Linked DNA regions of Homo sapiens. The protein of the gene in region 2 purifies or fractionates together with the protein of the main gene of each other region. This does not show direct contact. Each region holds a gene or a part of one and is shown on either strand. Other genes may lie near its edges. The genes, in order: RIOK3, KCNE3, DNAJB4 and SLC20A1.

Region 1 (7,036 bases), on a different chromosome or scaffold from region 2:
CTCCGCTCCCAGGTTCACGCCATTCTCCTGCCTCAGCCTCCCAAGTAGCTGGGAGTACAGATGCCCGCCACCATGCCCGGCTAACTTTTTTGTATTTTTTAGTAGAGACGGAGTTTCACCGTGTTAACCAGGATCGTCTCGATCTCCTGACCTCGTGATCCGCCCCCATCGGTCCTCCAACGGATTTCTTTTTTTAACCTATTTTTAAAATCCAGATTGAGATCCAACTTCATTATGATATCTTCCCTGAATGTGCCTGGCAATGATCTTGTTCTATTCGCTATTCCTATCCCATATAAGGTCTCGTTTGCATAACTGGGTACTCTATTATGTAATTATCTTTCATTGACCATAATGGTTCTTACTGTAATGTTCTCCTTTTAGCTAAAGCTTAAGCTCTTTGAGAGTAAAAAATATGTCTTATATTTTATTCCCTGAGTAATCTAGCACAAATTACTGTTTGAATAATTGTTGATTGCCTGACCAACCTGAGAGTGACAGAAACCAGAGCTTTGACCCAGGCACAGTGGCCCACGCCTGTAATCCCAGCACTTTGGGAGGCTGAGGCAGTTGGATCACAAGGTCAGGAATTTGAGACCAGCCTGGCCAAAATGGTGAAACCCCGTCTCTACTAAAAATACAAAAATTAGCCGGGCATGGTAGTGTGTACCTGTAATCCCCGCTACCGGGGAGGCTGAGGCAGGAGAATCACTTGAACTTGGGAGGTAGAGGATGCAGTGAGCCAAGATTGCGCCATTGCACTCCAGCCTGGGTGACAGAGCAAGACTCCATCTCAAAAAAAAAAAGAAAGAAGGAAAGAAAAAGAAAGAAAGAAAGAAAAAGAGAGAGAGAGAGAGGAGAGAGGAGAGGGAGAGAGAGAGAGAGAGAGGAGAGAGGGGAGAGAGGAGAGAGGGGAGGGAGGGGAGGGAGGGAGGGAGGGAGGGAGAGAGGGGGAGAGAGGGGGAGAGAGAGAGAGAGAGAGAGAGAGAGAGAGAGGAAGAAAGAAAGGAACCAGAGCTTTGTGGAAAGCAAAACTCCCAGCCCCCTTGGTGTGCACACCCCTGTATAATACCTCCTTCCCTTGAGCATGTGTGGGATAGCCACTCCCTGGTTAGGTTATGTGGCAAAGGTGATGGTCTAGTCATTCCCATGATAACATAACACTAAGTCTCAGTCTTAGCAGACTGGAGAGATTCTCCTGCTGGCTTTGAAAGTGTGAGAGCTAGTGTGTGAAGAGGCCTGTGAGACGGCCCCATGGCAAGGAACTGCAGGGGCCTCAAGGAGTTGAGAGCAGCCCACTGCTGACAGCCAACAAGAAAGTGGGACCTCAGTCGTATAGCTGCAACTGAAAGGTGGCCAAGGGAAGAGGACGCCAAGCTCCAGAAAGGAACACAGCCTGGCCAACACCTAGACTGCAGGCTTGTGAAACCCTGAACAGAGAACCTAGTTAAGCCATGCCTGGATTCTGTCAACAGAAACTATGAGATAATAAATGGATGCTGTTTTGGCTGCTAAGTCTGTGGCAATTTATTATGTACCACAGAAAACTAACAAACTTTTAAAAGCATTAACTTTTAGCTGTAGAAAACTGAATGTTCTCTAGTTTTGCTAACTTAGAAATGTCAAAGTACAGATTATGATACCAATTCCACCAGAAAGACTGAACATTTATTATATTAGAGTATATTAAGTATACCAGGCCAGGCGCAGTGGCTCACGCCTGTAATCTTGGCACTTTGGGAGGCCAAGATGGGTGGATCACCTGATGTCAGGAGTTTGAGACCAGCCTGGCTAACATGGTGAAAGCCCATCTCTACTAAAAACACACAAATTAGCCAGGCGTGGTGGTGCGTGCCTGTAATCCCAGCTACTTGGGAGGCTGAGACAGGAGAATCGCTTGAACTCAGGAGATGGAGGTTGCAGTGAGCTGAGATTGCGCCATTGTACTCCACCCTGGGCAACAAGAGCAAAACTCCATCTCCCAAAAAAAAAAAAAAAAAAAAAAAAGGAGTATATTGAGTATAACAGAAAATGGACAAAGGATAAACAAGAGAGAAGACAAGAAAAAGAAATACAAATGGCCAATAAAGCACTTGGAAAAAATGTACAACTTAATCATAATTAAATAAATGCACACCAAAATACCAAGATGTTACTTTTCATCTCTCACACTGACAAAAAGCATTAGATTTGATAATACTAAACACTGATAAAGATGAGGAAGCCCGGAAGCAGTGGCTCACGCCTGTAATCCCAGCACTTTGGGAGGCCAAGGCGAGTGGATCACCTAAGGTCAGGAGTTTGAGGACAGCCTAGCCAACATGGCGAAACCCTGTCTCTACTAAAAATACAAAAATTAGCCAGGCGTGGTGGCATGTGCCTGTAATCCCAGCTACTCTGGAGGCTGGGATAGGAGACCTTGCTTGAACCCGGGAGGCAGAGATTGCAGTGAGCCAAGATCACGCCACTGCACTCCAGCCTGGGGAACAAGAGTGAAACTCCATCTCAAAAAATAATAATAATAATAATAATAATATACGCATTGAAAAAAACTGGAGAAGTCTACCCAAAATTATTAATGATTATCTCTGGGTGGTGGTATTAGGATGACTGTGTTTTTTATACATTCCTATACTGCCTAGACTTTCTACAATAACACTTTAAAAATTACTCTGCTTGCCATGCAGCATTATCTTTGATTCTGTGTAAATTCATTAATCTTGGGGAGAAGAGACTAAGTTTTCATATCATGGTATCATATTTTGCTCATTTACCTCCCTCCATATGCATGAAAGACAACAGACTCCTTTCCTGTACTAATACAGCCAGTGATTGTCTCCAACATTCCAGAGTTGACCATTTTATACATAAGTAAACGTGTCTTAGGATCAACTGCTTTTTCCTGCAAGAGATAAAGCACTGTAAGTGAAAATGACTGCTAATCACAAAATATTTTCTGAGCCACTTCTAATAACTTTTTTTTTTTGAGACGGAGTCTTGCTCTTGTCACCCAGGCTAGAGTACAATGGCACCATCTCTGATCACTGCAACCTCCACCTCCCAGGTTCAAGTGATTCTCCTGCCTCAGCCTCCCGAGTAGCTGGGATTACAGGCGCCCGCCACCACACCTGGCTAATTTTTGTATTTTTACTAGAGATGGGGTTTCACTATGTTGGCCAGGCTGGTCTCGAACTCCTGACCTCATGATCCGCCCGCCTTGGCCTCCCAAAGTGCTGGGATTATAGGTGTGAGCCACCACGCCTGGCCTAATATCTTTTTTTTTTTTAGAGACAGAGAGAGAGACAGGGTCTCACTCTGTTGTCCAGGATGGAATGCAGTGACATGATTATGGCTCACTACAGCTTCAAATTCCTGGGTTCAAGTGATCCTCCCACCTCAGCCTCCTGAGCAGCTGGGACTAAAGGTGCACACCAACATGCCCGGCTAATTTTTTAAAACTTTTGCTGAGACAGGGTCTCCCAGGGTCTCCCTATGTTGCCCAGGCTGGTCTTGAACTCCTGGGCTCAAGCGATCCTTCTACCTTGGCTTCCCAAGGTGCTGGGAGCCACCTCACCTGGCTTATTTACATTTTTTTTTTTTTTTTTTTTTTTAAGGCAGGGTCTCAATCTGTCACCCAGGCTGCAGTACAGTGGCACAATCATGGTTCACTGCAGCCTCAACTTCTTGGGCTCAACCAATCCTCCCACCTCAGCCCCCCGGGTAGCTGGGACCACAGGTGTGTGCCATGATGCCCAGCTAATTTTTTTTGTGAGCTGGGGATCATTATGTTGCCTGGGCTGTTCTTGCACTCCTAGGCTCAAGTAATCCTCCTGTCTCCATCTGCTATCCCAAAGTAGTGGGATTACAGGCGGGCACCACAGTGGCTGGATTTATTTACATCTTTGATTTAAAAAGCCAATCTCATGAAAAAATATCAAACATGAAGTTTTTTTTTCTTTACCCAAAGTTTTCTAATATGAATCTTTCTAGTAAAAAAGAAAAAAAAAAATCTATAAATCCTTACTGCTGTAGAATGCTCCTTTTTCTCATGTAGGCGGGCACTTCGACGTTCTTCTGAGTAGGCATGTTGTTTTAAAGCATTGAAAACATGGTTTGATAGTTTTAAATCCATTCCAATTCCATCTCCTACCTGAAACTCAGGTGCAAACTGCCAAAAGGAAGAATTAGCATCTAAATATTTTAAAATAGGGACAGTTAAAAACAAAAACAAAAACAACCAAATGAGATTAGTCTTTCTTACTCAATAGATGATCACACTAGAAAACCAGAAATCATAGCTACTACAGAGAAAAAAATTAAATAACTCACAGAAAGAGGAGCAATACTATTTAAGAAATTACAACCCAAAGGAAGGCATTTATTCCAGGCATAGAAAACATTTCATCACATCCAAAACTAAGGTCTTTCGGCATGTGCATTGTACCTTGCTTTTAGCCAAAGGACACAATATTGAACTGTGAAGGCTACACCAAATCTTACCAAAGAAATACAATTTTGTAATTATTTGTGGAGAGTGGGTTGTTATAGCAGACTATGTTCACACCATGACAATTATGTTCTAGAACTGTGCAATTCAGTTAGGTAGCCACTAGCCACACTTGGATATTTAAGTTAATTAAAATTAAATTAAAAATTCAGTTCCTCTATTATACCACCCAAATTTCAAGTGCTCAACAGCAAATGTGGCTACCATATTGAACAGCACACATACAGAACATTTCCATTACCACAGAAAGTTCTATTGGACAGAACTCTTCTAGAATTAGATCTGGAATATTTCTAGAAATGATATAATTGAATATGTTTACTTAACAAGCATTTGTGCTTTAAAATCTAAATGTTTAATATATTATATTAACCACAATATTTATGAAGGATTTAGAATGCTTTTTTTTTGTTTGTTTTTTTGAGGCAGAGTTTCACTCTTGTTGCCCAGGCTGGAGTGAAGTGGCACGATCTCGGCTCACTACAACCTCTGCCTCCCAGGTTCAAGCAATTCTCCTGCCTCAGCCTCCCGAGTAACTGGGATTACAGGCATGCGCCACCATGCCTGGCTAATTTTGTATTTTTAGTAGAGATGGGGTTTTTCCATGTTGGTCAGGCTGGTCTTGAACTCCTGACCTCAGGTGATCTGCCCACCTCGGCATCCCAAAATACTGGGATTACAGGCATGAGCCTCCATGCCCGGCCTAGAATGCTATTTTTTAAAGTTACACTTTACTTCTGATTTTACACAGGTAGTTCAGGCACAAGATAATAAATTCAAAATGCACAAAAGAGTATATGGTGAAAAGTATTTCTCCCTCCCATTTGTATTCCCCAATCGCCACCGTTATCTGTTTTTTGGGTAGGGATGCTATTTTATAGAGATATGATGAAGAATAAATGTTAATTTCATAATAACTATTTATTAATTTTAGAATCAATGTGAGTCAAAATAGTTTTTCAACACTGTTATGGAATTTTATTCTGAGGTACTTTATATTTTCATTAATGTCTCAGTTTCCATGATATTGCCATATTGTTATCTAAAAACATCTTTAGAAAGAAAGACATTTTTAGAAATCTAAGGTATTATATTTAGAATCCTGTTTTTGAAAGGTATTCAAACAAAACTCTAAATTCAGAGATAGATACTTTCTGTAACTTACATTTTCCATTCTTGCTGTGTTCTTTCTCCCACATACTACTTCATCATGTTTGGTGGTGATATCTTTTCCTTTTCCAATAAAGCCCTTTTTAGGAGTGGGAACCGGTTTTGCTAAAGGCAATTGAAATAAGCCAGGTATATAAAAATAGCAAAGACTACATTGCTGCATTCAACGTTGTCTGAAAAGACATTTGAATCTAAGAGTAAATTACCAAATGAGATTCAAAGAAAAATATAAAACTAAAAGAGTTCATTGAAAAGATTAGTCTTCCTATACCTCTATTCTGCTGCCCCCAGAAAGTAAAAACTTTGGTACCTGGTCTGTAGGGATCATCACGAGTATCCTGCCAGTCAACCTCATCTTCAGAGCTATCGCTGTCTTCATAAGGATGCACTTTTCGATAATTTTCAAAGGAAATGGAAACTTAAGAAGCAAAAATAGTTGAAGATTTACTTAGGAGCACATTATGAGTGTTTTCTACCACTCAATGAAGTTGTCACAATAAGGTTATAATACCTTTGCTATCTCCATTGAATTTTTTTTCTTCACGCCTAAGCTGTGCATCATATTCTCTGTCATATTCCATCTGTAGCATCTGAGCCAGCATAAGGTCACTGGAAGTATCAATGTTTTCTCCAGTAATAAATGGTCCTTCAGCAACACTATTCAAAATAAGGCAATATAAACTAATGTAATGTGCTTAAGTAAACAGAGGTTGCCAATTATGAGAGTAGGAGGTGCCTTTTCCATGTTAAAATTGAACAATGGGAAAGAACTCTATCAAACCATTTACCTTCTCCTGCACAGCTAGCCTTAAGACCAATGGCATGCACCTGTGGGAGTACCAACTAGGATTAAGAGAACTGGGAGAGAAAGCTAAACTGAGGCCTAGAATTCATTTGTTCTGAATGAAAGTATGAGGCCAGGTGCAGTGGCTCATGCCTGTAATCCCAGCACTTTGGGAGGCTGAGGCTGGCGGATCATCTGAGGTCAGGAGTTCGAGACCAACCTGACCAACATGGAGAAACCCCATCTCTACTAAAAATACAAAATTAGCCGGACGTGGCAGCACATGCCTGTAATCCCAGCTACTCGAGAGGCTGAGGCAGGAGAATCACTTGAACCCGGGAGACGGAGGTTGTGCCGAGCCGAGATTGTGCCATTGCACTCTAGCCTGGGAAACAAGAGCGAAATTCCATCTCCAAAAAAAAAAAAAAAAGAAAGTCTGGATGTTTCATTCATCCATAATGAAAGAATAGATACATATTCATGAAAAGATAAACTACAAACACTTGATCAAAACTGTACCTCATCTAGTTCAACTGCAGCATTAACGCGATATAACTAAAACCCACAGAAACAGT
Region 2 (7,036 bases):
TCTCCGTTCCATTGGTAGTCTCCATAGCAACAGGGATTGAGGTGGGGGAAGACTCGGTAGAAGCTCTGGTGGCAAAAGAAAAGAGAGAGGGGATGGCTCTGTCACCTGCAGCTCAAATGACCTCCTCCCTTCAGATCCCAGGTAAAATCTTAGCATCATGGCTGATATGGTTTGGCTGTGTCCCCACCCAAATCTCATCTGGAATCATAGCTCCCATAATCCCCATGTGTCATGGGAGGGACCCAGTAGGAGGTAACTGAATCATGGGGGTGGGTTTTTCCCATGCTGTTCTCATGATAGTGAATAAGTCTCACGAGATCTGATGGTTTAGAAAGGGCAGTTCCCCTGCACCTGCTCTCTTGCCTGCCACTGTTTAAGATGTGCCTTTGCTCCTCCTTTGCCTTCTGCCGTGATTGTGAGGCCTACCCAGCCGTGTGGAACTGTGAGTCCATTAAACTTCTTTTTCTTTATAAACTACCCAGGCTCAGGTATTTCTTCATGGCAGTATGAAAATGGACTAATACAATAGCTTATTCTAGCTGCTTGATTACATGTTTGTCTTCTCCATTAGACCATACACTAAACAATAAGGGCAGGGCCTATATTTGTTTTACTCACTGCTATATGCAATCACTTATGACAGCATTCAATAAGTAAGTACTCAATAAATAATTGTACAACAAAGCCTTCCCTGACCATCAGAACCCATATTAATCTCTCCTTTCTTTGGTTTCTATAAATCACTGAACTTTAGATTAGAAGGAACTTAAGGATTATTTAATATAACTCTTGCCATTTTATACACAGGGAAACTGAGGCCTTGAGAGAATAAGTGGCTTGTCCATGATCACAGAATATTGGAAGTAGAGCCAAGACAGAAAGCCCTGCTCTTTGTGGCTAGCTTAGAGCTGCTTCCACTTCCATGCTAGCTCTCAGCAGGACTGTGCAGCACCATTAGAAGACATTCATCACAACTCTCCTTGAGCACAGTTCTCTTTAGACTGCACAGACAGGTTGGGCACAGTGGCTCACGCCTGTAATCCCAGCACTTTGGGAGGCTGAGGCGGGTGGGATCACTTGAGATCAGGAGTTGGAGACCAGCCTGGCAAATGTGGTGAAACCCGTCTCTACTAAAAATACAAAAATTAGCTGGGCGTGGTGGTGAGCGCTTGGTAATCCCAGCTACTTGGGAGGCTGAGGCAGGAGAATCACTTGGACTCAGAAGGTGGAGGTTGCAGTGAGCCAAGATAGAGCCACTGCACTCCAGCCTGGGCCACAGAGCGTGACTTTGTCTCAAAAGAAAAAAAAAAAAAGACTCCACGGACACCTTTTGGAAGACACCTGGGGATGGTTTAAATTTCATCCTGCCTGGAGGCCAGAAGCTGGATCATTTGCCCTCTCAAGCATCCTGTGTCCCAAAGACTAGATATTCCTAGCTATTTGTAGAAATTCTGTTGGAAAGAGGTGGTCAGGGAAACGGGAACAGGTTGGTAACCACTGCAGGCACTGGAGAAGAGAACAGCAGCTTGGGCCTGAGGGCGGGAGAGTGAAAGGAGTTCTCAGTCTGGCTTGGGGTTTACCTGCCCACAAAAAGAAGACACAAGCACGCCAACTATCTTGTCTCCTGAAATAAAGTCATTATGTACCTGGCATATAGTAAGTGATTATAAATGTTCCTTTCCCTTCTTCTCAGAGATCCTTAGTCTATAATATAGAAAACATTTTTTTTTTTTTTTTTTTTGAGACGGAGTCTCACTCTGTCGCCCAGGCTGCAGTGCAGTGGCGCAATCTCGGCTCACTGCAAGTTCCGCCTCCTGGGTTCACGCCATTCTCCTGCCTCAGCCTCCCCAGTAGCTGGGACTACAGGCGCCCGCCATCACGCCAGGCTAATTTTTTTGTATTTTTAGTAGAGACAGGGTTTCACCATGTTAGCCAGGATGGTCTCGATCTCCTGACTTTGTGATTCGCCCACCTCGGCCTCCCAAAGTGCTGGGATTACAGGCGCCCAGCCAGAAAGAACATCTTAAAACAGACTTGCATCCTTGTCTCTGAAAAACCATATGTAATTCCCTATAAACAAGGCCCCACACTCACTTCCTTTAGGAAGCCTCCATTCAGTGCTCCCCACCTCTCAGCCACACTACACTGCCTTTATCATCACAGCCTTCCCTTCCCCCCAGCACTTACATATAAGGCAATATGTGGCTGTCCTCTTGTTTTTGATAAGGATATCATCAGACCACATGCGTCTGGTCAGCAGGGCTATGTCTCTTACCCCAGTCTGGAGGACTACCCTGAGACTGGGTGTTCTCCTTTCCCAGGGCACTACCTTGAGACTGGCTGGGTATTCCCTTTTTCTAGATTGGCTGGGTGCTCTCCTTCTCTCAATAGTTTCTAGTAGAGATGTTCACTTTAAGGAATTCTCTATGGGCCAAGCATTCAGTCCTCCATCATATGGGTAGAACTGTTAACAAACTAATATGTGACTATTAACCATAAGATCTCTTCCCTGGAAAAGATGATCATTCTGACTATGAAAAATATTCATCAATGGCTCTATGAACACAATCAGCCAGGACTGGGCAGCATTTCATGCAAGGCCTTTGGGGCCTTCTGACATCTAGTACTTGTGCTGCCTTGTCTGGATGGAGGAGGGGAAAAGAACAAGAGCTCACTGAGTTAAGATCCAGGAGATACACGTTCTCATCTACTACCCCATGTGTCAGGCAAGAACTCTGTGGCTGCTGCTTCCCTCGTGTGGGCCAATAGCAAGTAGGAGCAGCATGATGAAATAAATAACTCAAAAAATAATCTAGATAGTTATCACCAATATGGGCCACACCCTGTGATGGGAGTTCGGGGTGGCTCAGATCCAGTGCCTTCGCCCAGGGGCTCTGATACAATGCAGGGGACAAGCAAAGAGCTACTAAGGCTGAAAGGAATAAGTGATGGATACTGATCAGGGCTCAGAGAGTGTCCACAGTGATGGAGGCATTTGAGTTGGACCTTGAAGGGTTTTTAAGAGGCAGAAAAGATGAAGGAAACATGAGCAAAGGCAGAACAAGAAAGTGTGTAAATGTTTAGAAGAATGGAAAGTAGCATAAAGAGGTTGGAGTGTAAGATGTGTGGAAGAATAGTGTAGGATGTGGGGCAGGAGAGAGAGGATCCAGATCATGGGGGGCCTTGAGTGCCACGCTGTAGAGTTGGAACTTTATTCTGTAGCTAGGGAAAAGCCATGGAATGGTATCTTAAAAGAAGATAAAATGGTCAGATCTGTGCCTGGAAAGGATACTCTGGCTGTCATGTGGACTGGAGGGAGCTGGAATTGAGGCAGTGAGCCCAGCTACCAGAGTCTTGAAATAGTTTAGTGTAAGATGCTGAGTCATGAATTGGGGCAGAGAGGATAACAAAGTAGGGAAGTGGGGGTAGAGACAGTCGTAAGACCTGAGGAGGAAATGGCTAAGTGAGGGTTGAAGGAGGAAGGGGCCTCAGGCAATTTCATAGGTAGACAACAAACAAACAGTGTAAGTGTCTTGATGAGCCTACTCTGAAGGAAATAAGTTCCTTTCCCTGGGTGGGCTTTGGTTTCCTCATCTACCAAAAGACATTATCATGGAGTTGTTGTATGGTAGGTATAGAGTTTCAATTTTACAAGATGAGGAGATTCTGGGGATCTGCTGCACAACAAGGTGAATCTAGTTAACACTACTGAGTGTACACTCAAGAATGACTAAGATGGTATATTTTTATGTTTTGTGTGTGTGTGTGTGTGTGTGTGTGTGTGTGTTTTAAGCACAATTTTAAAAAATAGGCCAGCTGTGGTGCCTCACTCCTTTAATCCCGGTACTTTGGGAGGCTGAGGCCAGTGGGTCACCTGAGGTCAGGAGTTCGAGACCAGCCTGGCCAACGTGGAGAAACCCCGTCTCTACTAAAAATACAAAAATTAGCCGGGTACACGCCTGTATTCCCAGCTGCTCAGGAGGCTGAGGCAGGAGAACCGCTTGAACTCAGGAGGTGGAAGTTGCAGTGAGCCGAGATCACACCACTGCACTCCAGCCTGGGCAGGAAAGCAAGACCTCTGTCTCAAAAAACAAACAAACAAACAAACAAAAAACCCCACAAAGAAAGATGATCATCCTTTCCCTCCTCCTTCAAGGCTTGCTATGAGCATATACTTGTATTATGTAGAAGAGGATTAAAAACTTTTTTTTTATTTTCAAGAAGCAAATATGTACACATAGGTTTAAAAAAAAAAAAAAAGAATGGACGCAGCACATACAGTGAAGGTGAAAGCTCCTAGTCGTCCCAAGCTCCATCCCAGGGCAGGGCAGTTACCATTCAGTTTTCTTAGGTATCATTGGAAAGGGGTTTTAACTGACAGGGAGAGGGAGGGAAATCTCAATCTGGAAGACTCACCAGACTGCTGGCAAATCCACTGGCTCTCAGTCAGTTTCAGGAGTCCCTTTGTGGACACACTAAGGCTCCTCCACCCCCGAGCCTCTTCAGGATGTCTCTGGACACATCTGGGATCTCAGTATTGACTTCGGAGCTGGGAAAGCCCAGAGCTAGAAAGCAGGAGAGAAGGCAGAAAAGGAAGGAACCAGACACAAAGCACAAACTTCAGAACCAGGGTGGATTGCCCAAGGCCAGGCCCCAAGGATTATGCAACAGTCCTGCTGTGGGCTCTGACCCCCTCCCATGGCCCCTCCCCTTCCTGCAGCAGCTGGGTCAGGCCAGCCTAGGGTTGCAGTTAAAGGAACTGTGCAGTGACCAAAGGGCCTCTGATTGCTGTCCCCTACCTCCAGACTTACAGTGTCTTCACTGGGTGACTTCATGAGAAACCTGTTTAAAATGTGGACTCCCACTCAGGGACCAGCTGATGGTGCAGCCTAAAACATTCCCTTTCCTAAGGGTTACCTTAGCAAGGTCCTTTTCGAATCCCAAGGGAATTGACATGAGTGGGAGAATGCCAACTGGCAGCTGGGTTGATATTTTACATAGGAACAAATGATGTGTTACCACCCAATCTATTCAGATAGACAGGATATGAACACGGTCACAGAATGAACACTATCTGTAGCATAGCTTTGTTGTGAAAATTAAAGAACATCATGTAGTGCTTGGCACTAGACACTGCACATACGGTGGTTGTTTTTGTAGAGCAAGGCTGGAAGGGCCTTCAGAGCCCATCTAGGCTATATGCCCTCACTTTACGGTGAAGGAAATGGAAACCAGGGGAGTTGTCCCAGCTCAGCTGCTCCTTGTGTGACTTTGGACATAAGACTTCCCTTTTCTGGGCCTCAGCTTCTGTCCGCATCTGTAAAATGAAGGGGTCTCAGTTGGTTCTAACGTCCTGTGATGATACGAATCATGAAACCATGCTGTGAGACCATGGGAAGTTGGAGAGGCTGATGGGAGAGGCATTTTGGGGGCTTTCTAGAGCTTCTCAAATCCCAAGATAGAGAAGGCTGTGGACCTCTTCCTCACAGGTTAAGATGCTTCTGAGCCCTGGGACTGACTGACATCTAATATCCCAGTCGAGCCAAACTGAGAGATTTACTCATTTTTCCTCTTCACAGCTCACCTGCCAGGATGATCTAGCCTGAGGAGGGGATAGACTCTGCAGAAGGTGGGGGAAGGGGACAGTGTGGAGGGTAGGGTGGGCTTTGAGGCAGGGTTCCATGAGGGGAATAAAGATTCATGAGACCTTTCATGCCTCAGGGTCTCTCTGAATAGACTAGGATGTTTGTGCTTCTGACAGGAGGAGGAAAGGGGCCATAGTTCCACATCTCTAGGTGCTGGGTTTGTATGGGAGGGAAGGCTGGGGTGCCAGGGCCTCCTGTCTGCGTTAGGAGAGGCAGAAAGCTGATGAAGGCACAAGTTGGTTCTCTATGGGGCTCTGGGGCTGCCTCTGGGGCTCAAGCTGGGGACTGGCAGTCAGCAACAGGGGAGTTTTGCCACTGTTTCTGAGCTCCTTGGCTTCCCTGTCCAGGAGAGTCCCTGATTACTGAGATCCTTGGATGGGGGAGATGGAGCTCCTGCCCTGGAGAGGTCTTGCCTTGAAATAGAAGATAGGCCAGTGAGGAAGGAAGGTGAGCAGATGGCCAAGCTGAGAGGGACTTTAAGGATCATCTAGAATCTAGATTCCAGGCCAACCCCTCCATTTCGTAGATGAGGAAACTGAGGCTCAGAAGGGAGAAGTGACTAGTCCAAAATGACATGGCCCATAAATGGCAGCACTCAGACAAGAACCCAGGTGTTTGGGCTACTGTTCAGGTGCTCTTTCCACTACAAATGGCAGTGTTTCCTCACACCTAAGCTTCACATCACACCAGACACAGCCTGTTAGTGTCATGGGGCATCATCTCCTCTAACTTCGTCACTATGGCCTTTTCATGCACCACAGATTCTCGCCAATCTTAGTCAATGATCCAGTGAGATGGAGGTTGGTAAGCTTGGGAGGAGGAGTTAGACTTCGTTTATGCTCTCATCTTCCATGCACCCCACTGCTCCAGACCTACTCCTGATTCCCCAGATGAGCCAGGTTCACTCTCTGTTCCTGCTATTTCCCATACATTCACAGGTTCTCACAAACTGCACTTGCCTTACACTTGTCCAACCCCTAACTTGGAAGTTGGGGAATAAAGCTGTGATCTGAGGGATGAACTGGGGATCTTAGTGGGGTTTTCATTCAGGTTGCTCTGGGGAAAAGTGAAACTCTACCCTTGGGTCTTTCTTTCCCGTCACTCCGTTTCAGCTACTCTTTCAGAATGAGCGTCTTCAGTGTCTGGAAATGAAGTACAGAGAGGTAGGTAGAAAAAGTCACATAAAGCAGGTAGGTGATCCAAAGACAGTTCCTGGGGTGCACAGTTTTACCACTGTCCCCTTGGTGGTCTTACCACTCCTGTGGATTGGAGAGCTGGTGGAGTGGGAGAGGAGTTGAAGGAGTAGCCCTTAGCATCCAGTTGGAAGGACAAAGGAATAGAATCTGAGCTGGAAGAGATCTTCATGATCATGTTGTTGGTGCAACCCCCTC
Region 3 (7,000 bases), on a different chromosome or scaffold from region 2:
TACAGCTCAAGTATACAAGATAATAATAGAGCAAACTGGGCCAGGTGCGGTGGCTCATGCCTATAGTCCCAGCACTTTGGGAGGCCGAGGTGGGCGGATTACTTGAGGTCAAGAGTTCAAGACGAGCCTGGCCAACATGGTGAAAACCTATCGCTACTAAAAATATGAAAATCAGCTGGGCATGGTGGCGGGCACCTGTAATCCCAGCTACTCAGGAACCTGAGGCAGGAGAATTACTTGAACCTGGGAGGTGGAGGCTGCAGTACTAGCTGAGATTGTGCCACTGCACTCCAGCATGGGTGACAGAGCGAGACTCCATCTCAAAAAAATAATAATAATAATAATAGAGCAAACTTGGGGAAGTGCATATACATTTTATGGGTAGACATCAGATTTAAAATGACTTATTTTAAGCTAAAGAGTTTGGACTTTATGGTAGAGGTTATATAGAGCAATTTAAGAATTTGAAGCAGGGAACTGCTATGACCATATTTGCAAAGTTACAATCCAATTTGAGAAATAGTACAAATAGGCCAGGCGTGGTGGCTCATGCCTGTAATCCTAGCACTTTGGGAGGCCAAGGCAAGTGGATCACCTGAGGTCAGGAATTCAAGACCAGCCTGGCCAACATGGTAAAACCCTGTGTCTACTAAAAATACAAAAATTAGCCAGGTGTGGTGGGGGGCGCCTGTAATCCCAGCTACTTAGGAGGCCGAGGCAAGAGAATCACTTGAACCCGGAGGCAGAGGTTGCAGTGAGCCGAGATTGCGCTGTGGGTGACAGAGCAAGACTCTGTCTCAAAAAAAAAAAAGAAATAGTGCAAATAAGAACTCAAATAATAATTGTATTAACATAGTAGCATTATAATTTATAAATGTATATATTTATATGCACTTATAAATGTATTTTTTATTAATATAAATGTATACAAATTTGTAGTGAATTATAAATTATTTTCTTCTAATCTTTTTTGGTATGCAATTATTACTCCATATTAACAAATTTAGAACAAACCCTATATACAAAGACTAATGTGTTGAGATTACCAATGCAGATCTCATAAACCACATTTGTAAAAGCAGCCTCATAGTACATAATCCAGTTAACACTTGACACTTTAATTATAAGTAACTAAAGTTAGAAAATATAATCACATCCATAAAAGAGGTATAATACTAGTACTATCTTAGAGGATTTTTATAGTAATTATTTTTAACGTATAATAGGCATTAAATAAATGTTAGCTATTATCTAGATACACTCCCTATGATCAACTACATAATTATTTGGTCTTAGGATTTTAGGTCCTACCAACTTACCTCTCGTAAACTAATTTTAGCAGTATAAATTATATTTGATCCATCCCTTTTAAATTTTGGATGATCTTTGTCTTTAATGATAAAAACAATGTCTGCTGGAATACTATTTGGTGTTTCATCTCCTTCTCTTGGAAAAGTAATTTTGGTGCCTTCTTTCCACCCTTTTTTAATCTCAATGGTAAGAATTTTGTCCTCAGATCTGTAACTCCTTCCATCAGCGTTTAGCCTTTTTCGAGAAATCTTCATCCGTTTGGTACAACCACTATATATCTCTTCAAGTGATACTCTAAGTTCATGAATAACTGGAGGATCTTGTTTGAGGCGGGATGGCCCCACAGAATTCCTGTCTCTTGGATATCCATTCATGCTGAAACCAAAGGCACTAAAAGGATCACCATCTATTTCCATTTCTTCAGAATCTCTACCACCACCCATTCGTCTTCCAAAGAAAATTTCAAAGGGGTTGGACCCTCCGAAAAATGCAGCAAATGTAGCATGAGGATCGCCATGAAAGGTGTACCGGAAGGTACCTCCTTGTCCATCAGTACCTCCTGCTCCTCCTTTCAACCCTAATTGAAGAGATAAGCATGATTAGAAAAAAGCTTGCAACTCTTAAAAGTTAAACTTTCAAAAACTGTATTGCTAATAAATTTTGGCTAACTTACATTAAAATGTATTAATATTGGCCAGAAATGCCACTTTACTAAATACAGAACAGCTATAAAACTCTTGATGATTACATCCTAAGTTAAATTGTTAAGTTTTCAAATTCTTCCTCCAAATCAGCATTTTTGTTTGTTTGTGTTTTTGAGACAGAGTTTCGCTCTTGTTTGCCCAGGCTGGAGTGCAATGGCGCAATCTTGGCTCACCGCAACCTCCGCCTCCCAGGTTCAAACAATTCTCCTGCCTCAGCCTCCCGAGTAGCTGGGATTACAGGCATGTGCCACCACGCCCGGCTAATTTTGTATTTTTAGTAGAGACGAGGTTTCTTCATGTTGGTCAGGCTGGTCTCGAACTCCCAACCTCAGGTGATCTGCCTGCCTTGGCCTCCCAAAGTGCTGAAATTACAAGTGTGAGCCACTGCTTCCGGCCAAATCAGCATCTCTAATATTTATTCCTGATTCTTTGTTCCACGGGTAAGTAAGAAAAATAAAATAAGGCCGGGCGCAGAGGCTCATGCCTGTAATCCCAACACTTTGGGAGGCCGAGGCAAGCAGATCATGAGGTCAGGAGTTTGAGACCAGCCTGGCCAACACAGTGAAACCCCGCCTCCACTAAAAATACAAAAAATTAGCCAGGTGTGGTGGCAGGTGCCTGTAATACTAGCTACTCAGGAGGCTGAGGCAGGAGAATCACTTGAACCTGGGAGGCAGAAGTTGCAGCGAGCTGAGATCGCACCACTGCACACCAGCCCGGGCAACAGTGTGAGACTCTGTCTCAAAAAAAAAAAAAAAAAAAAAGAAAAGAAAAGAAAAAGAAAATAAAACTGGGAACTCCTTATAAACTACTGATCTGGCATGCTGAAGTATATAAATTATATAAGTATCTACTTATAAATATATAAGTTTTTAAAAGATGTCAGTTGGAAGGTCTTCAGCAATCAACACAAAGTGCAGAACTTAAATCTTTAATTTTTATTACAATCAAACAATATATATAACATTTAAAAATATAAATATATTAATAAAATATATAGCAAAATATAAAATACCATATTCATACTGTTTATATATAAATAAAATAGAAATATGTAAAAATATAATGTAATAAAAATACCATATTCATTCTAACTAGTTTTATTTCAGATCATCTTTTACTGTTTAGGAATTAAAATAGGGCCAGGTGCAGTGGCTCACACCTGTAATCCCAGCACTTTGGGAGGCCGAGTCGGGTGGATCACTTGAGATCAGGAGTTCGAGACCAGCCTGGTCTACATGGTGAAACCCCGTCTCTACTATAAATACAAAATTAGCTGGGCATGGTGGCACATGCCTATAATCCCAGCTACTTGGGAGGCTGAGGCAGGAGAATCGCTTGAACCTGGGAGGCAGAGGTTACAGTGAGCCAAGACTGCACCATTGCACTCCGGCCTGGGCAACAGGAGCAAAACTCCATCTCAAAAAAAAAAAAAAAAGAATTAAAATAGAACTCTGTGTCAGAGAGTGAAAAAAATTCTAATAATGAGGACATTCTATGAAAAATGGTTTTTTAGACACTACGATTGTCATTCCTACTCTAGATACCAAATTTTTTAGGCATATCACATCTTAGCATTAATTTCAATGCTTGTAAGAAGACTGAAATCAAGAGCTGTAAACTTTGACACGTAAGGCCTCTATATGGGTTATTTCTGTCTCTTGTGAACAGTCCACCTCAGGCAACAATATAGTGACTTTTTGACCCTTTGCTTAAGGGTTCCACTAAGTAATATTTAACCCACAAAAGATTATATTTGAAACAACATTTTCCACTATGAAAGAAATGTTCTACTAAAACTCAAAAAACAACAGTATGGTGATCTTTTAAGGGGTCAATACAGATCAAGAAACAAGCAGGAAAAGAATCTAAAAATCATAAAACTATGAAAAATCCAACAGATTAAGCTAGGAGATTCTAATATCTCCAAACAGTGAGTGATTTGAAGGCAGGAAATATATTTATTTTGCACTGCTCATGCATACAGGGCTGAAAATGGTAGGTATTCATGCTTAGTGAATGAAGGGAATGAACTAATTCCTAAAGTCCTTCTAAATCAAAACTAAAAAAGGTGTCTTGAGTATCGGTACAGAGAAAAAGGCAGAAGCAAAAACAATGTAAAATATAATCACACATATACATATATGAGAGATTTAACAATTTAAAATGCCACTAACACACAGCATACTTTAAAGAAACTTAGTTTTGCTTACGTCTTATTCTGCATTTGGCTTCTTCCATTAAAAGGTATATATCTACTCTATTTCATCTAACAGGGTCTCAAGTGATATCTAAAATTTTTACCTTCATCCATGAATAGAAATCTGGAGAGATCAAGAGAGACCTAATAATCTGAAAATTGCCAAAATATGTATTGAACAATATATCCAAATAGCAGTTAGGGAAATTCCTTGTAGAATGACAAGTATAAGCAGGACAAGATCTTTTCATAAGCAGCTCATCCAAATTTCCCTTTTATAAATTTTAGTAGTATAATTATAACTCCAAATGTTAAAAAGGTAATGGCAGATTTTTTTTTTAATGATAGAATAATATGTAGCTCAAGGTCATGACCAAAGTGACTCAACCAATGCTTAAATTATTTAAATAATTTTATCCTTCATCCCATAGACTTAAGGGAGTATAATTATTTAACTGAGTTAAGTAAACTGGGTAAATCAGCCTGCCCAATCTAGCCTCTTATAAGACAAAATTTAAATACTTGCACCCATAATGAATTCATGAAAAGAAAGAATAATGTTTTAATTTATTACATCATGGGTTTGGCTTTCTGGAAAACCTCTTCCTCCTCTGCCAAAAAGGGCAATTCGGTCATAATTACAAAGTCTCTGAGAAGATTCATACAAAGTCTGAAGTAACTTACCAAAGCTGATAAAAAGACTCCAATGCAGCTTTGAGGTTTTCCTAGACACTATTAAACAGTCAACTATGCAGCTCAGACAAAGAACGAAGCTACTCTAATGAATGAAAAAAATCCTAGGCTGGGCACAGTGGCTCACACCTATAATCCCAGAACTTTGGGAGGCCAAGGTGGGTGGAGCATGAGGTCTGGAGTTCGAGATCAGCCTGACCAACATGGTGAAACCTCGTCTCTACTAAAAATACAAAAATTAGCCAGGCGTGGTGGCGCACGCCTGTAATCCCAGCTACTCAGGAGACTGATTCTGTCTCAAAAACAACAAAAAAAAGAAAAAAATCCTACCAAAATTCATGCCACTTTAATATACATTATTATGCAAGTATCACTTGCATTGTCTAGCACATAAAATTATAAGTAATGTCACATTAACTATATGGTCAGTTCTTAATCATGTACATTTTGAACGCTAATGGAAATGTTTAATATCCAATTGGATTCCCTCTGCTATTCAAAATGTTTTCTAGACATCGTCATCACTTTGTGTGATCAAAAAACGCACCAGAGAAGCAACATTTGCCTATGATTTAGCAAGACTGCTATTATTTTACAACTAACCAGTCAACCAGTTTGCAGTCCCAAACCAAATATGTGTTTGGAATACTATCTATAACAATGATTCCCACTAATTAGTTAAGGTTGACTAAAAGTTTCCAAAAGAAGAAACACTGGAGAAAAATTCAGATTGCAAAGAAAAAAACATGATAATACTTTAATAACTCTTACTCCATCCAAGGAGATCTAATATGTAAAAATCCAGATTTACAGCAAGACTTCAGTTATCAAATAATGAGATTCTGAGATTTTTTAAACAGTTTTAATTCACAAAAATCAAATTTACTTACATGTTTTTAGAACACACAGTGAATTAAAAAAAATCCAGCTAGCTAAATATATAAGTTAAAGAACAGAAGAGAACTAGTATAAAGATTAATAAATACAAGTTTTATCATTTAAACACTACCTTTTAATATTTGAAGTTACTGAATAAATCATATGCAATAACAAAATAAGGAAAGCATAAAAAAAGAAAAATTAGAAAACTAGAATAAATGAGGATGTGTTATTGAAAATCTTTTCTTTTAAATCTCTTAACACAAATTTTTGTTGACATCCACTAAACTATTCAAGACTAAACCTAAAACTTTAGAGAGTGGTTCAGAATCCAATTTTAAATTTCTGTAGTTCTGTGGTTTTTGTTTTCAAATGATTCAACTATAGAGAAATTTTATTTTTAAAAAGATTTATTACATATATAAAATTAACCTATTGTACAAATACAATTCAATTGATTATAGTAAATTGATAGAGCTGTATAACCATCATCACAATCCAGTTATAGAACATTTCCATCATTCCAAAGAATTCTCTAGTTCTTATTTGTAGCTAATCCCCGCTCCCACCTCAAGTCCTAGGCAAGAAAGATCTGCTTTCTTTTTCTATATACTGGCCTTTTCCAGACATTTCACATAAATAAAATCATACAATATATAGTCTTTTACATCTGGCTTCTTTAATTTAGCATAGTTTCTGAGGTTCATCAATGGTGTAGCATGTTTCACAAATTGGTCCTTTTATTGCTAAATAGTTCCTCATTGAATGTATATAGCACATTTTGTTTAATTCACCAATTTATGGTGCTTTCAGATTGTTTCCAGTTTGGGGCTATTATAAATAATGCTGCTATAAGCATTCAGGTACATGTCTTTGTGTGGACATGTTTTTGTTTCCCTTTTATAGATTCCTAAAAGTAAATTTGAGTTATCCGTATTTTTTTTCTTTCCTTTGCTTTTTCTAGAGGTAGGGTCTTGCTATGTTGCAAAGGCTGGACTCAAACTCTTGGGCTCAAGCAATCCTTCAGCCTCAGCCTCCCTATTAGCTGAGACTACAGGCATATGCCACCTCACCCAGCTAGCCAACTGTTTTTAAAACAAAGCATTTTAAATTGTGAATATTCAGAACACAAATATACTGTGTTCTGGATTACTGGTTCTTTCACTCCTAAATACATAAATTTAGCATATGCAACTTACATACTTTTCAGTTT
Region 4 (7,036 bases), on a different chromosome or scaffold from region 2:
TGACCTCAGGTGCTCCACCTGTCTCAGCCTCCCAAAGTGCTGGGATTACAGGTGTGAGCCACTGTGCCTGGCCAGTGCTTTACTTCTGTCTTTAGTACAGGCTAATGGTTTGGAGCCTACTGGCGTGCATATGACAGTCAGATAATGACTAATATTACTCATTCTTAAACCATGTGAACAGTGTTGCTAGGCAAGTCTTTTTTTAAGGTAAGACTTGTAAGTGAAATTACCACTAAACTTTGTGTGTGAGAAAGACAAAACTTTTTTTTTTTTTTTTTTTTTTTTTGAGACAAAGTCTGACTTTGTCACCCAGGCTGGAGTGCAGTGGCGCAATCTCAGCTCACTGCAACCTCCGCCCTGCCAGGTTCAAGTGATTCTCCCACCTCAGCCTCCCGAGTAGCTGGGACTACAGGCGCCCACCACCATGCCCGGCTAATTTTTTTTTGTATTTTTAGTAGAGATGGGGTTTTGCCATGTTGGGCAGGCTGGTCTCGAACTCCTGACCTCAAGTGATCTGCCTGCCACGGCCTCCCAAAGTGCTGGGATTACAGGCATGAGCCACCGTGCCTGGCTGAAAGACAAAGCTTTTACAACTATTCTTAAATTATCAACTTTTGATAGATAATATCCTTGTTTTCTGTATCTTGCTTTGATACTGCTTTCAAGGAGATAATCTCATTAAAGCATTTTACTAAAGGCCAGTATAGTGAATGTAATCACTTTTACACAGAATTGTGTCAGCATGACAAATGTGACTACTGAGACATCATTCTGTTAACATTAAAATAAGTTTGTAGGTGGTAATGGAATATGTGGCAGTTACGATCATGAGCTAGGAGAGTGGAACACTTGCTGTCTTTTTCATAGCTAGTCATAGGTCCTTAGCGTGTAGTGATCTTTATTATCTTCCAAGGTGAAGAAAGGAAAAGGCTCGTATGTTGAGAAGCATAGGAACTTGAGTCCCGCAGGTGTTCAAGTGGGCTAGGCTGGTGTGGGTTTTCAGATGATCATTGAGTTTTTCTCCCAAATTTGTATAGGCACTAGCACAGTAATCCTGTGCACTTAAATCTGGCAGCAGCTGTCAGGGGTGATGGGCTGGTATGGGGAACCCCTCAGTCCCCAGAGGAGGGTTTACACAATATTGCAGGGGGCTGTTGCCCTGGGGTTTTCAAGATGCACCATTTTATCTCCTAGTGCTGGGCTTTGACAAACTTCCTCTGTGGGGTACCATCCTCATCTCGGTGGGATGTGCAGTTTTCTGTGCCCTTATCGTCTGGTTCTTTGTATGTCCCAGGATGAAGAGAAAAATTGAACGTAAGTAATAACTAAACAGCAGAAAAGTTTAACTACTAATGTTGTGTTTATTTTTTATTTGGCCACCTGTAAAAATCTATTAGAAGAGATTGGCAAAATAAGAGATTTTAAAGGGAAATTTGAGGATATGGGTTTGTTGTCCAAACTGTTTTTAGAAATGGACTTACATGACCTAAGACCTGTTCTTAAAAATGGACTTACATGACCTAAGACCTAGTGATAAAGAGTATTCAACCTATGCTGTAGAGACAATCTGGGGCATTGAATTTTTTTATGTTCCTTGATCAGTTGCCAGTGACATGATAGATAAATAGAGAAATCATAGCCTACATTTACTGAGAAGTAGAAGGATACCTTAATGAAAAATAAGGGGTAGATACAAGATATTTTCGTAGAGGAAATATTTACCCCAACTGCTTCTGTGTATAACTTCAGATTCAGACAAGCAAAGCTAAGTCTAATGTGTACATGTTGTATATAGGCTAGAATACATGTAGACATTGTATTGCAGTATACAATGCAAATACATATACAAACACACATTGTGTGTCTGCTAGAATTGTAGCACAGATTCTAGAAGTAAACATTTTCAAGTGTCAAGGAATCATTTAGGCCATTACCACACACTCATGTAATTAAATACTGAGTAAATTTTGGTTAGTATCGGACTTTTTTTTCCTTAAAATAATCATTTTCTGCCCTTTTCATCGATGTGAAGGCTGGGTTAGCAAGTTGAAGTTTATCGTTTCGAAGCTGAGGGATGCATAGACTGCAGTGGTGTTAGGAAGAACGCTGCGTCACCGCAGCTGAACCGAAGAGCCTCCGAGAGGTTCTGTGCTAGTCTGGCTGTGCCGAGTGCACGGTGGGAACCAGGCTTTCAGGACTCTCTGGCCTCATTTTCCCTCTCTGGGAGGAGTTGAGACAAGTCTTGCTTTATGTTAGTCAGTCTGTAGTTTGACTGAGGTGCCTGGATGGATAGGTCAGCATACTGAGCACTGGCATGAGAGAGGCAGAAGATACTCTGGTCTGCCTGTGGGATTTACAGCCATGATGCACATCTCTTTGTTTTATAGAGGTGGAAATTAAAGTTGTCGTCTTTAGTTCCCTGCATTGAGCTGTGCCACTTTGCTTGAATTGGTGGACTGAAATTTGAGAGAATCCTCTTTTGAAAAGAATAGAATTGGGTACAGTTCAGATTTTTAGTTTCAGCTTATCAGCCCCATGGTTGAGCTACTTTCCCCTACAGAATGAGTCAGCAGGGAGCTAAGAAGGGTTCTTATATCTGTAAAGGGTTGTAAAAATAAAAACAAAACAACAATGTGCTACAGAAGCCCGTAAAACCTAAAATATTTACAGAAAAATTTTGGGACCCCTGACATAGGGTGTTCTGCATTGCTGGTTGTTCCCAAGTGAGAGTTGCTGGCAAATGATAAAGCAGGCAGGAAAAATGTTCCTGAATGTTAATTGAAGTTCACATACATTCTTGTTTTGAGATGAGTTTTTTGGGGGTGGAGGAAAGGAGACGTGGAACAAAGTAGTATGGCCACAACCAAACCAAAAAAGACCCCCCTTTTTTTTCCTAGGAGAAATAAAGTGTAGTCCTTCTGAAAGCCCCTTAATGGAAAAAAAGAATAGCTTGAAAGAAGACCATGAAGAAACAAAGTTGTCTGTTGGTGATATTGAAAACAAGCATCCTGTTTCTGAGGTAGGGCCTGCCACTGTGCCCCTCCAGGCTGTGGTGGAGGAGAGAACAGTCTCATTCAAACTTGGAGATTTGGAGGAAGCTCCAGAGAGAGAGAGGCTTCCCAGCGTGGACTTGAAAGAGGAAACCAGCATAGATAGCACCGTGAATGGTGAGTTGGAATTCCTGGTTTCACTTTTGTTACCTGCAGTGGTGAGGAGGCTTATTGTTTTGGATTTGATGCTTTTTGTATTGAATGTCACCTTGGTGATCTTGACTAGGTGCAGTGCAGTTGCCTAATGGGAACCTTGTCCAGTTCAGTCAAGCCGTCAGCAACCAAATAAACTCCAGTGGCCACTACCAGTATCACACCGTGCATAAGGATTCCGGCCTGTACAAAGAGCTACTCCATAAATTACATCTTGCCAAGGTGGGAGATTGCATGGGAGACTCCGGTGACAAACCCTTAAGGCGCAATAATAGCTATACTTCCTATACCATGGCAATATGTGGCATGCCTCTGGATTCATTCCGTGCCAAAGAAGGTGAACAGAAGGGCGAAGAAATGGAGAAGCTGACATGGCCTAATGCAGACTCCAAGAAGCGAATTCGAATGGACAGTTACACCAGTTACTGCAATGCTGTGTCTGACCTTCACTCAGCATCTGAGATAGACATGAGTGTCAAGGCAGAGATGGGTCTAGGTGACAGAAAAGGAAGTAATGGCTCTCTAGAAGAATGGTATGACCAGGATAAGCCTGAAGTCTCTCTCCTCTTCCAGTTCCTGCAGATCCTTACAGCCTGCTTTGGGTCATTCGCCCATGGTGGCAATGACGTAAGGTCAGTTGACATTGATCTTAGTGTTGCTAACCCTATTTTTAAACCATTTATCCTTGTCACAGGCCTGTGCTTGTGGTAGTGGTACTCCTAGCATTTACAGGACCCCAAATAATACAAATAGGATGAGGTAATAGCAGTTATTGACATAATAAGACAGTACAGTTTTATTCTTCAGAGGAATTACAAAGAATGTTTATTTTTGTAGATGATAAATATAAACAGATACTCTTCACAGAGAAGGCTTTTGTCCATCAAGATGAGATTCAGTTCTTTGGTAGTGAATTGTGGGATGTAAGATGTAAGATGAAAAACTTAAAAGTTTTTCATATAGAATGATTTTGTAGTTTGGTTTGTAAACTGTTTATTGGAACCTGAGAGTTGCTTTAAGCTGCCTATAGGAGGAAAGAGGCCACCATTTGCCTGGCATTCCCTCCATCAGAGCTGTGTTCATTTTTCTGTTGTGTATGTTGGGGTTCCATTTATGTCTTTAGAAAGAAAGGCCCTTTTGCCAGATGAGCTTGAAAGCTGTACTTTAGACAACCTGGTAGATCATTCAGCAGATTGGGTCTTGCCAAGATCTAGTTCTGCCTGAAAAGTCACTTCTGCCCTCTTTGTTTCTTCCAGCAATGCCATTGGGCCTCTGGTTGCTTTATATTTGGTTTATGACACAGGAGATGTTTCTTCAAAAGTGGCAACACCAATATGGCTTCTACTCTATGGTGGTGTTGGTATCTGTGTTGGTCTGTGGGTTTGGGGAAGAAGAGTTATCCAGACCATGGGGAAGGATCTGACACCGATCACACCCTCTAGGTAAGTAGGTGGAGCAGGTTCTACAAATGTCAGTACTCATTTTTTTCAGAGATATAACACTGTCGAGTGCTAACACAAATCTCTAAAGTAACCAAGTTTGTATAAGTTCATGATGTTCTTATTGTCATTGTTCTTTTTAGATTTTACTTGTCTGGCCCTTAAACATTTTGGTCAGACATTTTACCCATTTAGCTCTGGTGGTCTCTGAAGAAAATGACTTTTCTGAGAAAGCTGTGTATGCTAAGAGCGGATAGTTATGTATACTTGCCTTTTATTTGTCTTGGGAGCTAAGACTCAATGTTTACCAAACTCTTCAAAATAAAAGTGCAAATTTTATTTAATAGTGGGATTCCAGAAAAACGTAAAACTGGAAGCCTTTGAATAAGGAAACTGGGCATCTGTGGCCTGATTTAAATAAAGTAGATCTTAGGGGTTATAGCAAATAAAGATGTCAGTGGAGGTTTTGTGACTGAGTAGAACAAAGCAGGACTGTGTTAACTTGAGGTGTAGTGTTAGCTTCTCAAAAAAGTCAAACTCACTTCCTGACAAGAATCCTTTTGTGTCTGTAGTGGCTTCAGTATTGAACTGGCATCTGCCCTCACTGTGGTGATTGCATCAAATATTGGCCTTCCCATCAGTACAACACATTGTAAAGTAAGTGTAATGCCAATGTGTGTCTTTCAAATGGTTCTTCTAATATGTAGGGTTTTTAGTTTTACTTCTCTGATACTTTGATTTAGAAAGTTTTGTGCAGTTGGAGTCTTGAAGAGTTCATAAGTTATTTCTTGTGTTTATTCTTATTTAAGCAATTAAATAGATATTCTCCCCAAATAATAGAAACATTGTTTTATATACAGCTTACTGTAGTTTCTGGCTACTAACCTCTTCCTTTGTTACTTTATCCTCCCTCATTGTAGTCTCTTTATAATAATTTTTTTTTTAATCTCAAGAGTCATTTCTACTTGGCACCATTATGTTTTATTTATTTATGTATGAGTTGGAGTCTTGCTGTGTCACCTGGGCTGGAGTTCAGTGGCACAATCTCGGCTCATTGCAACCTCCGCCTCCTGGGCTCAAGTGATTCTTGTGCTTCAGCCTCTCAAGTAGCTGGGATTATAGGCACCCGCCACCATGCCTGGCTAATTTTTGTATTTTTAGTAGACACAGGATTTCACCATGTTGGCCAAGCTGGTCATGAACTCCTAACCTCAGGTGATCCACCTGGCTCGGCCTCCCAAAGTGCTAGGATTACATGCGTGAGCCACCGCGCCCGGCCGACAGCATTATGTTCTTTGCCTTTGGGGAAGCCATTCAGAGCAGGGTAGGTGTATGCTTAGAAACTGGCAGGTGCTTTAATTCTGGCCAGGTGGGTTTCTGCTGCCATTTGTGGTGGCTGAAGGCCTGGTTCTAACAAGTCTGTGAGGCTTGCCAAAATGTTGGCAAAGCAGTTTATTTACAGAAGGCATATTTCAGGGCCTCTCAGGATTGAAATACTGAGAAACAAAACAAATCTTAAGGTTGTTTGATGACAATCTAATAATTATAGGAGAAGGAAGAAACTGGTTTCCTTAAGAGCATTTAAGCTGGTCCATCATGGATCCTGCTGAGTCATCTGTTTGCTACCCGGATGTGTCTCCAGACAATTGTTTATTAGGTTTAATATCAGCCACTCTGTAAATAATCTTAGGAAGACTTACAATGCAATTTGTTATTAAAAGCAGTGTATAGGCCAGGTGCAGTGGCTCATGCCTGTAATCCCAGCACTTTGGGAGGCCAAGGCAGGTGGATCACAAGGTCAGGAGTTTGAGACCAGCCTGGCCAACATAGTGAAACCCCATCTCTACTAAAAATACAAAAAATTAGCTAGGCGTGGTGGTGGGTGCCTGTAATCCCAGCACTTGGGAGGCTGAGGCAGGAGAATCACATGAAACCAGGAGGTGGAGGTTGCAGTGAGCCAAGATTGCGCCACTGTACTCCAGCCTGGGCGACAGTGCGAGACTCCGTCTCAAAAAATAAATAAATAAAAGCAGTATATATTCATTAAATTTTAGCAGTAGCTGAGAAGGGGAAAAGAAATAGTTCTTGTGTCCTTTTACTACCGTTAGTATAGATTATGATTGGATTTTCAAATTGCCTTCATTTTCCCAGCTTAACCTGTTGTAAACCAGCTTTCTTGGACTTTGTCTTGTCCAGGGGTCTGGGGCTCCTTGTCCAAACAGTCTCAGGTGTCTGTTTGCCAGAATACCACTGGCACTTCAATAACCTGTTTCCTTGGTCTGCTTCTCTTCTAGGTGGGCTCTGTTGTGTCTGTTGGCTGGCTCCGGTCCAAGAAGGCTGTTGACTGGCGTCTCTTTCGTAACATTTTTATGGCCTGGTTTGTCACAGTCCCCA

Evidence for each region.
Region 1: the proteins of KCNE3 (region 2) and RIOK3 purify together in Homo sapiens (co-immunoprecipitation; 2 studies listed by BioGRID and IntAct, with this or other methods). This does not show direct contact.
Region 3: the proteins of KCNE3 (region 2) and DNAJB4 purify together in Homo sapiens (co-immunoprecipitation; 2 studies listed by BioGRID and IntAct, with this or other methods). This does not show direct contact.
Region 4: the proteins of KCNE3 (region 2) and SLC20A1 purify together in Homo sapiens (co-immunoprecipitation; 2 studies listed by BioGRID and IntAct, with this or other methods). This does not show direct contact.

What each region holds. Positions count from the first base shown.
Region 1 is NC_000018.10:23,463,265-23,470,300, reverse strand, and holds part of RIOK3 (serine/threonine-protein kinase RIO3), read right to left. Parts: intron 6,335-7,036; coding exon 6,189-6,334; intron 6,096-6,188; coding exon 5,988-6,095; intron 5,783-5,987; coding exon 5,673-5,782; intron 4,169-5,672; coding exon 4,025-4,168; intron 2,903-4,024; coding exon 2,775-2,902; intron 1-2,774.
Region 2 is NC_000011.10:74,457,539-74,464,574, forward strand, and holds part of KCNE3 (potassium voltage-gated channel subfamily E member 3), read right to left. Parts: exon of another isoform or gene 6,724-7,036; intron 5,318-6,723; exon of another isoform or gene 5,144-5,317; intron 4,595-5,143; exon of another isoform or gene 4,566-4,594; 5' UTR 4,417-4,565; intron 66-4,416; coding exon of another isoform or gene 26-65; coding exon 1-25. UniProt on the Homo sapiens protein: Ancillary protein that functions as a regulatory subunit of the voltage-gated potassium (Kv) channel complex composed of pore-forming and potassium-conducting alpha subunits and of regulatory beta subunits.
Region 3 is NC_000001.11:78,007,939-78,014,938, reverse strand, and holds part of DNAJB4 (dnaJ homolog subfamily B member 4), read right to left. Parts: intron 1,889-7,000; coding exon 1,320-1,888; intron 1-1,319. UniProt on the Homo sapiens protein: Probable chaperone. Stimulates ATP hydrolysis and the folding of unfolded proteins mediated by HSPA1A/B (in vitro).
Region 4 is NC_000002.12:112,655,928-112,662,963, forward strand, and holds part of SLC20A1 (sodium-dependent phosphate transporter 1), read left to right. Parts: intron 1-1,194; coding exon 1,195-1,314; intron 1,315-2,897; coding exon 2,898-3,167; intron 3,168-3,276; coding exon 3,277-3,835; intron 3,836-4,459; coding exon 4,460-4,645; intron 4,646-5,214; coding exon 5,215-5,299; intron 5,300-6,936; coding exon 6,937-7,036. UniProt on the Homo sapiens protein: Sodium-phosphate symporter which preferentially transports the monovalent form of phosphate with a stoichiometry of two sodium ions per phosphate ion. May play a role in extracellular matrix and cartilage calcification as well as in vascular calcification.